2 separate regions of the Homo sapiens genome follow, and region 1 is linked to region 2. Evidence: fine-mapped expression QTL. A gene starts in region 2. The other region holds a variant in brackets. All regions are shown on one strand. Distances are from middle to middle.

Region 1 (4,393 bases), 77 kb before region 2:
ACAGTTCACTTCTGGCCTTCAGTGTATGTTTGCCTGTCCATTAATAAGTTGATCTGGCATTTTTCCTGTAACATTTTTGTTTTTCCTTCCACACACTGAAGTTCTGCCCTCAGCCAAAGCCCACTGCTCATGGACAGGTCTTGCTCCTGCCCCAGGGGCCTCAGTGGTGGTAGGCAGGGAATAGGCCGTTGGCAAGTTGAAGCTCAGGAAGGAAGGGAGGGCTCAGTAACTGATTCAGGGGCCAGCCACTCTGGCTTCACCTGGGAGCTTGTTACATGTGCAGAATCTCAGGGCGTAGACCTACTCATCAGAATCCGCACTTTAGCAAGATTCCCAGGTGATTTGTGTGCACATTACACTTGAGAAGCACTGCCTAGAGTGTTGTGATTAACTAGGCTGCAAGCTAAAATCACCCAGGAAGCTTTAAAGCTCCCAACGCCTAAACTGTAGCCCAGACCAACTGAATCGGGGACCCAGGTGATTTTAGTGTGTAGCCCCAGGGAACAAGCCCTGGTAGAGAACATCGTCAGTTTACTTTCCCTCCACAACAGATCTAGCAACTAGCAGGACTCAAGTAGGTCTTTAGGCCAGTGTAAAAGATCATTCAAACATTCAGTCAGCAAAAATGTAATAACACCGGCCGGGCGCAGTGGCTCATGCCTGTAATCCCAGCACTTTGGGAGGCCGAGGCAGCCGGATCACCTGAGGTCGGGAGCTCGAGACCAGCCTGACCAACGTGGAGACACCCCATCTCTACTAAACATACAAAATTAGTGGGGCATGGTGGCACAGGCCTGTAATCCCAGCAGTAATCCCTCAGGAGGCTGAGGCAGGAGAATCGCTTGAACCCGGGTGGCGGAGGTTGTGGTGAGCTGAGATTGCGCCATTGCACTCCAGCCTGGGAGACAAGAGCGAAACTCCGTCTCGAAAATATATGTACACCTACTGTGTGCCAGGTACTGAAAATACAGAGGCAAACAGAGACACAACCCTGACTTCCTAGCATTTACAGCATAATGAAGACAGACCTCTGTCAGTAAATGCCAGTACAGTCTGTGCTACAGAGGGTACATTTGGGATGCTATGGTAGGGTACAATGGGAGGCCTTGACATTTCTGGTTTGTAAAAACAAAAATCATGCCATCTTTCTCCTGTCCAAGCTGAGAGATGCTTAAATGGTATTACCAATGCCTTGATTTCAGACCTGAGTTTCAAACCTGGCCTGGGGGACTAAAACTTACATTTCTCTGTTGAATGATGGGTAAGTTCAGCTTGGAGAGAGCAGCTGAAAGACAAAGTGGCGCCTCAGCAACAGTCTGTTACTCTAAAGTCCAAAGTCTACGTTACACTTTGGGCCAGGCAGGAGTTTGGTACAAGCTAAGTAAATAGTTTTTCAGTGTCTCTGATCTTACATTACAGGGGAAAACTGGAAGTTCATCTTGGGTGACTTCTCATCTCCTGCAGAAATTTTCTTACAGAGAATTACAGCACTTTGGCCACCCCCTGTTTAATATGTTCCCTAATGGCCACAGCAGGAAAGAGCAATTAGCAAATTCCTGAATATTTCCTTCACATCATTTCCCAAAGCTTCTTTATGTTAGGTAAGAGGTCCAGCCTTCATTACAGGCTTTTAGCAAATTAAAGCTATTTGCATTTTAGAAGCATATTTGAATTCCACATACATTGCATCTCACACCAAGACATCACGTTCATTAGACAGCTTCATCTCTAATCAAAGCAGAAG[G/A]CCTTGAACAAATAATTAGCCTTGAGGCTAGAATTACACATTAAAATAATAAATTGATTTGCTAAGGCCACAAAGAAATGCCACTGGGGCATTCTAGTGTTGCTCCACCCTATATTAATGGCTTCAGGTCAAATGCTGCTAACGTAAACTTGGTGACACTCATGTTGTTTTGGAAATGTTGATGTCACGGCAACCAAATACAAAGCATGGTTCCTGGGCCATTGTTATCCAAACTTGTTTAAGCATAAAAATGGCCTGGGGTGCTTAGTAAAAAGGCACCTTCCTAGGCTCCTGCCCGCTCTGATTGAGCAAAGCAAGGGCCCAGAAATATGACTTTTTAATTAAGTACTTGGGGTGGGTCTTCAATTGGGAAAGTTTGAAAAACGATGCTCACAGCAGCAAGGTACAGCTAGTTGAAGAGGCCCAAACATTCCAGGGGAATTTTGGAGGGGGGGTTTTGAAAGTCTGATCTGGAACATGAAAATGGTCCCCCTGCCCTGCGTCTTTCCTTGGTCTTTAGGAGCTAACACATGGTTGCTTCTATTGGCTGCAGCATAGGCCAGAGGCAGCTGCTGTGCCTGGGCAGGGCTCTGCTTCGGAAATCCAAGATCCTGGTCCTGGATGAGGCCACTGCTGCGGTGGATCTAGAGACAGACAACCTCATTCAGACGACCATCCAAAACGAGTTCGCCCACTGCACAGTGATCACCATCGCCCACAGGCTGCACACCATCATGGACAGTGACAAGTGAGTGTAGGGGGACAGGGCTTGACACGGATGGCTTAACCCTTGCTCAACAGTAACAGTGTCAGCCGGGAAACACCTGATGGCAGAAGGTTTAACCACCACCACATTACTGATGAAGAAACTGAGACTTAGAGATGTCAAGTAATCTGGCCAAAATTTTACATCACGCAAATGAAAACGAACAAGGTTAAGGGAACTATTCATATCTTGAGGGCAAAATAGGAAACTGTGTGTTGTAACAATTAACTGGGTATGGGGAGGTGGAAGCTCAAGCCGTGAGAGGCAGATGTTGACCATAGACCTTCCTAACTGTCCTGAGCCTCAGCTGCTGCTCTGTAAAACAGCCAGAAGCTTTCTATTCCTTCCAGCTGTGTCATATTACAATCAAAAGTCAGTAATCTTAGAAAGCTGTTTGGAGATGATAGGCACCCTTTGTAAACCAATCTATCCTTAAACAATGTGCACTTCTTTTAAAAACTCATGTAAATGGACTCATACTGCCTGTATTCTTCTATTACTTGATTCTTTTGTTCAATATTATTTGCAGAATTCATCCATGTTGATGTGTGTAGCTGTGGCTCATTGATTTTCACTGCTTTGTAGCCTTGTCTGACTATACCACAACTTAGTCCTGGTTATTCTTATAAATGCCTAGACTTGAGATGCTGCTTTCTAAGACTTTTATTTCTTTCTTCCTTGTTTCAGGGTAATGGTCCTAGACAACGGGAAGATTATAGAGTGCGGCAGCCCTGAAGAACTGCTACAAATCCCTGGACCCTTTTACTTTATGGCTAAGGAAGCTGGCATTGAGAATGTGAACAGCACAAAATTCTAGCAGAAGGCCCCATGGGTTAGAAAAGGACTATAAGAATAATTTCTTATTTAATTTTATTTTTTATAAAATACAGAATACATACAAAAGTGTGTATAAAATGTACGTTTTAAAAAAGGATAAGTGAACACCCATGAACCTACTACCCAGGTTAAGAAAATAAATGTCACCAGGTACTTGAGAAACCCCTCGATTGTCTACCTCGATCGTACTTCCTTGCTACCCACCCCTCCCAGGGACAACCACTGTCCTGAATTTCACGATAATTATTCCTTTGCCTTTCATTTCTGTTTTATCACCTTTGTATGTATCTTTAAACAACATATACCCTTTTTTACTTATGTAAATGGACTGACTCATACTGCATACATCTTCTATGACTTGATTCTTTTGTTCAATATTATATCTGAGATTCATCCATGGTGATGCAAATAGGTGCATTATTTTTTTTCACTGCTCTGTAGTCTGGCATTGTATGAATACAGCACAATGTATCAGTTTTAATATTGGGGATCATTAGCATTATTCTCAGGTTTTTAAAAATTATAAGCAGTACTACTATGGACATTCTGGTCTACATCTCCTGGCACATATGTAAGAGTTTCTCTAGGGTATAACCTAGGAATGGAGGGTATGAACATGTTTACATGCACAAACTAGCTGATGCCAAACTGGTAATGCCAACTGAAAACATTGCTGTCAATCTGATGAATATGAATTGATGTATCAATGAGAATTTCATTTGCATTTCCCTAGTATCTATTGGGGATGAATATATTTTCATGTTTCTGGGGCATTTGCATTTCCACTTGTTTTTTAAATATTGTGTCTGATAATTCCAATGTCTGGATTCTTTGTTTATCTGTTGTTTCTGTTGGTTTTTACTCATGGTATTTTATTTCCTTGTATGTCTTGTGAATTTTTATTATAAGCTCGTTCTCCTTAAAACTTTATCTGTGGACATTCTTTGAGGCCTAAGTTGACCGTGAATTCTTCCTAAGGGAATTGGGAATGCTTTAGCCTGCTGCCTGGGGCATTACCCAGAACCTCTTTGAATGAAATTCTTCAC
Region 2 (4,393 bases):
TTACTGTGACCCACACTTTATTTTTTATTTTATTTTTTTGAGACACAGTTTCACTCTGTCGCCCAGGCTGGAGTGCAGTGGCACAATCTCAGCTCACTGCAACCTCCACCTCCTGGGTTCAAGCGATTCTCCCGCCTCAGCCTCCGGAGTAGCTGGGACTACAGGCGCCCACCAACATGCCCAGCTAATTTTTGTATTTTTGTACACAGGGGGTTTCACCATGTTGGCAAGGCTGGTCTCAAACTCCTGACCTCAAGTGATCTGCCCACCTCGGCCTCCCAAAGTGCTGGTATTTCAGGCGTGAGCCACTGTGCCTGGCCTGACCCACACTTTAGGCTGTAACTCACATTTACATAATACATTTATGTCTATACACATACACATACACAAAGTATTACATGCTTACTTTTACTACATAGAATGTAGTATGAAAGTTTTTTCTATTTACTTTTATTTTTCAGAACTGCTGATTGCAACCCCCAAACAGACTTCAAGACCCAGTCATGAGTGGCTACCCATTATTTACAAAAACATGGGATTGTGGCTATATAAGCTTCCTTCCAGTAATAACATAAGAGGCTCCTATTTTGTAGCCTTCCAACCCTGAACCTTTAGCCCTCTCTAGTTTTGTTTAGAGCCCTCTCTAGTTTCATAGTTTTCTCTGTAAGAGCTCTTCATTTAGATATCCTAATATTATTTACATGCAAAACAGGTAACGTGGAATTTGAAACACCAGGTCCCCTTCTCATCATAACCATGTATGTTATTAGCAAGTGCAAAACCCTAGTGCCCACACTTGGTCTAGTAATGGTAGAGTAGCTCACATTGTACTAATCTCCCTACTTATAACTACCAAAAACACTTTACAAGATTTATTTTTTTAACTTTTATTTACTTTTATTTTTCTAGAGATGTGGTCTCACTCTGTCACCCAGGCTGCAGTATAGTGGCATCATCATAGCTCACTATAGCCTCGACCTGCCAGGCTCAAGTGATCCTCCCACCTCAGCCTTCTGACAGATATTTTAAAAAATAACTATATGCAGGCACTGAAAAGCAATCAAAAGCAGGCAGAATTTGGAGGGGATATGACTCAAAACAAGGGAAGCAAACTAGGTAAGATGCACCTGTCTCCAGTCCTCCCCTCAGGGCACTCCCTAGTCTTTTAGGACGCCGGGAAATAAAGCAAAAGAAGAAAGCCCACATGGGGCAATCTTACTGGGCTGAGCAGCCAAAGGTTCCAGTCTGGGGGCTCTGAAGACATTAGCTATTAAGGGGGAAATCCTGGAAAACAGTAAGCCACAGAGAGGAGAGCCCCAAAATCTGTGCAGAAATGCCTCTCAATCCTTCAACTGTGCATGCAGGTGATGAGACTCCAAGGAACCCCGTGGAAAGCTGGAGGCCAGAAGAGCCCAGCAGATAGATCTTCACCAACTGTCTGGCTCTGGGAAGACACAGTTTGAAATTTGAGTCCCTCCAAGTTAGGAGGTTCAATAAACACTTCCAGTTTTCTGTTGAAACCTCCGAAGGGCCACACCTTAGGAATAAGGCCCACCTCTCAGAACTAGAGGTCCACACCCTAGGACTAAGAGCAAACCCCTAACAGACCTGCCCTAAAAAAACCTCAGATGGAGGCCTCAGGAGAATGACTGATCAGGCCGGTGAGAAAGGAAAGCCTGGGGGAAAACTTGGCTTCCTGCCTGGGGGAGAGGCTGGAGAGCAGCCACTGAACAGAGCTCTGTCTCAGATGGAGGAGGGGTGGCAAGGGGAAGACGGGAGAAGAGGAAGGGACAGGACATTCCACTTAGACAATCAAACTTGAAGTGTTTACGGTCTAGGGTAGATGTCCAACAGGGAGCAGGGACTATCAATCTGGAACTCAGAGACGAAACCATGGAGTGACAGGTGGGTGGCGCAACTTATAAAGGGGAAGGGAGGTGGGCAGATAAAACACAAAGAAATGGCCATTTATGAGCACCTACTATGTTCCGGATATGTGACTGTTTTATTTTTCTATCTCATTATGAGAGAGGTATTATCTTCACTTTACAAATTGAGAATCCGAAGCTCCAAGAGGTTAAGTAATTTTTGTCAAGTTAAGGCCATTTAGTAAATGGTGGAGCTGAGATTTGAACTCAGGGCAGACCAACTCTGATGCTTGTTCCTTTGTGTAATTACACAGTGTTCCCTTGTAATATTCAGGAAGGGCAATGGCGTGAGAGAGCTAACAAAGAACGTTAGAATGCTGAAAGATTTCTAGTAAAGACAGAATTTGTTATAGGTCAAGAAGGATATTAGGGGTACAAAAAGGGGTGAACTAAATATGAATATACTTTCAAAAGTTAAGTCCTCAAAGATAAAGAGAGTTGTAGAAATGGAAATGATATTGGGTGGAACCGAGCTGGTTTCAGGGAGATCAGAGGGCACATTACAACACTGCAGAGAGAAGGGTTTCACTCCTGTTAAGTCAAACAGAATAAACACACTTTGATTACAGTTGGGAGGCTTAATACAATAAGGAACTAAACATAGGAAACAAAGTTCACCAAAGGAACAGATGCGGGGGGAAGGGAAGAGGAACAATACAAAAACCAATATAAAGAATCACAGAATCAGACTTTTTTCTTTTTTAGCTGGAAGGAATTTAGAAGTTATCCAGTCCCTATCATTTCAGAGAGAAAATGCACCTAGGAAAAAATGACTAGCTGCTAAAAACCTCAGCCTCCCAACTAAAGCTGGGTTTGGTTTCATTTTTGTCTTTATAGGTGCAGGTTAAGAGCCTGTTAGGTCCAAAATGGTGCCCCAGAAATTCAAGTTAAGTCAAGCCCATGTTGGAAGACCACCAGGTAAACCACCGGCCATCCCAGGACCATAGCAGGCTTATCTTTTCAGTCTGTGGTGGCCCCTAGTACAAATCTAACCAGCCAGCCCATTCTGAAGGAGACCTAGACGAGAAACTTTCTACTTAAGGGGAGGGCATGAGATGGATTTTTCAGATCATTCACATTCTCTGACTAACCTTTATCCTCTGGTCACAGCCTGGACCCCAAAATTGGCCAGAACCAGAAAGGCCGTTTGGCATGAAGACAACATACAGCATACACACACACGAAAGGTTTAACAGAGAGTTCAGTAATTATAAAAATAACACAGTAGAAATAAAGCTCACTTATGAGAACTGAAGAAAAGATATAATGGCAAGAAAGAAAGAACCTCTACATGATAAAAGACTCCTAATATTCTCATTTCACAGACAACGTAGTTAAGGCTCAGTGAGATGAAGTGATTTGAAAGCTAGAAATAATCTTCTGGAATCCACAAGAGTGTCAGTACTCATCATTCACTTAAGATTCCTGAATGTCAAGGAGTGAACAATCTATAAAACAAATCAGGGCTACTCTGGGCACACTGCCTATGGGGTAGCCCTGCTCTGAAAGGAGCGGTAAAAAAAAAAAATTAAAATGAAGGCCTGGCAATGGTGGCTTACACTTGTAATCCCAGTACTTTGGGAAGCAGAGGTGGGTGGTTCGCTCAAGCCCAGGAGTTCAAGATCAGCCTGGGCAACATGGTGAAACCCTGCCCCTACAAAAAAATAAAAAAGTAGCCGGGCATGGTGGCATGTACCCATAGTCCCAGCTACTCAGGAGGCTAAAGTGGGAGGATCTCTTGAGCCCAGGAGTTTGAGGCTGCAGTGAGCCATGACCGTGCCACTGTTCTCCAGCCAGGGGGACAGAATGAGATCTTGTTTCAAAAAAATAAATAAATAAAAATAAAGTCAAGTCTTCTTTTCCATTAATGTCCAAAGAAGTGTAGAGACTGAGAGAAAAAAAAAAAAACATGCCAGGAAAATGAATTTTAGCTTGATGCCCTGATAATAAACTTGCTGCCTCGACAAGATGAACAAAAACATGAAAGTAAGAAAGGAAAGATACTTGAGATTAGAGACATCTGAAAAAACCAGGAAGCGTAAATAAAAGTTCCCATGAGAGCGCTATCCGAATGTTGCATATTTTTAGCACTGTATATATACTCTTGCTCTGTACAATGCCTTCCAAAGTAATTAAATCTCTAAGGTTGTTCTCACTCAAGGTGCACTTGATAAGAAGTTCAGGGCCCGGGCTCCTTAAGAACACAAGTGCTCCTAGTACCTGGTATAACTACCCTTTAAATCTATCTTTATGCTTTATCTTAAGAAGGCTGGCTGAGTTCATACCTTGGGTTTTCTTGCTGTTTTGCACGAACTCTGAGCGCCTCAGGGTGCTGGGTGCTGTGCGGCGGAGGCAACTATTCCTTCTCCAAGTCTCTGGGCCATTTAATTTTTTCTCTTCCTCTAAATGCCAGATGTTCTTCTCTAATGACGAGCTCTGAGGAATCCCCAAATGATGTCCTCCTT

Direction of the effects. Positions count from the first base shown, and alleles are read on the strand shown. Sizes are in standard deviations (SD) of each study's normalised expression.
With allele A in place of G in region 1, the expression in breast of the gene that starts at base 1,811 in region 2 is lower (moderate effect, 0.49 SD a copy in GTEx).

The links. PIP is the estimated chance that this variant, and not a neighbour inherited with it, causes the effect.
Region 1: its variant is the best candidate, but not a certain one, in a credible set for the expression of DNMBP-AS1 in breast (GTEx, PIP 0.70).

The regions. Positions count from the first base shown.
Region 1 is chr10:99,848,305-99,852,697 of GRCh38, forward strand. ABCC2 (ATP binding cassette subfamily C member 2) reads left to right here. Exons shown (of 32, transcript NM_000392.5): 31 at 2,298-2,492; 32 at 3,198-4,290. The coding sequence ends at 3,327. Among named protein-coding and RNA genes, the nearest start is that of ABCC2, 68 kb to the left of the region's middle. RefSeq lists an enhancer at 1,562-2,242 and a silencer at 1,788-2,082. The variant G/A (reference allele first, on the strand shown) is at 1,745.
Region 2 is chr10:99,925,395-99,929,787 of GRCh38, forward strand. DNMBP-AS1 (DNMBP antisense RNA 1) reads left to right here and starts at 1,811. Exons shown (of 5, transcript NR_024130.3): 1 at 1,811-1,905; 2 at 2,766-2,846. The region is part of intron 4 of DNMBP (dynamin binding protein); the gene reads right to left.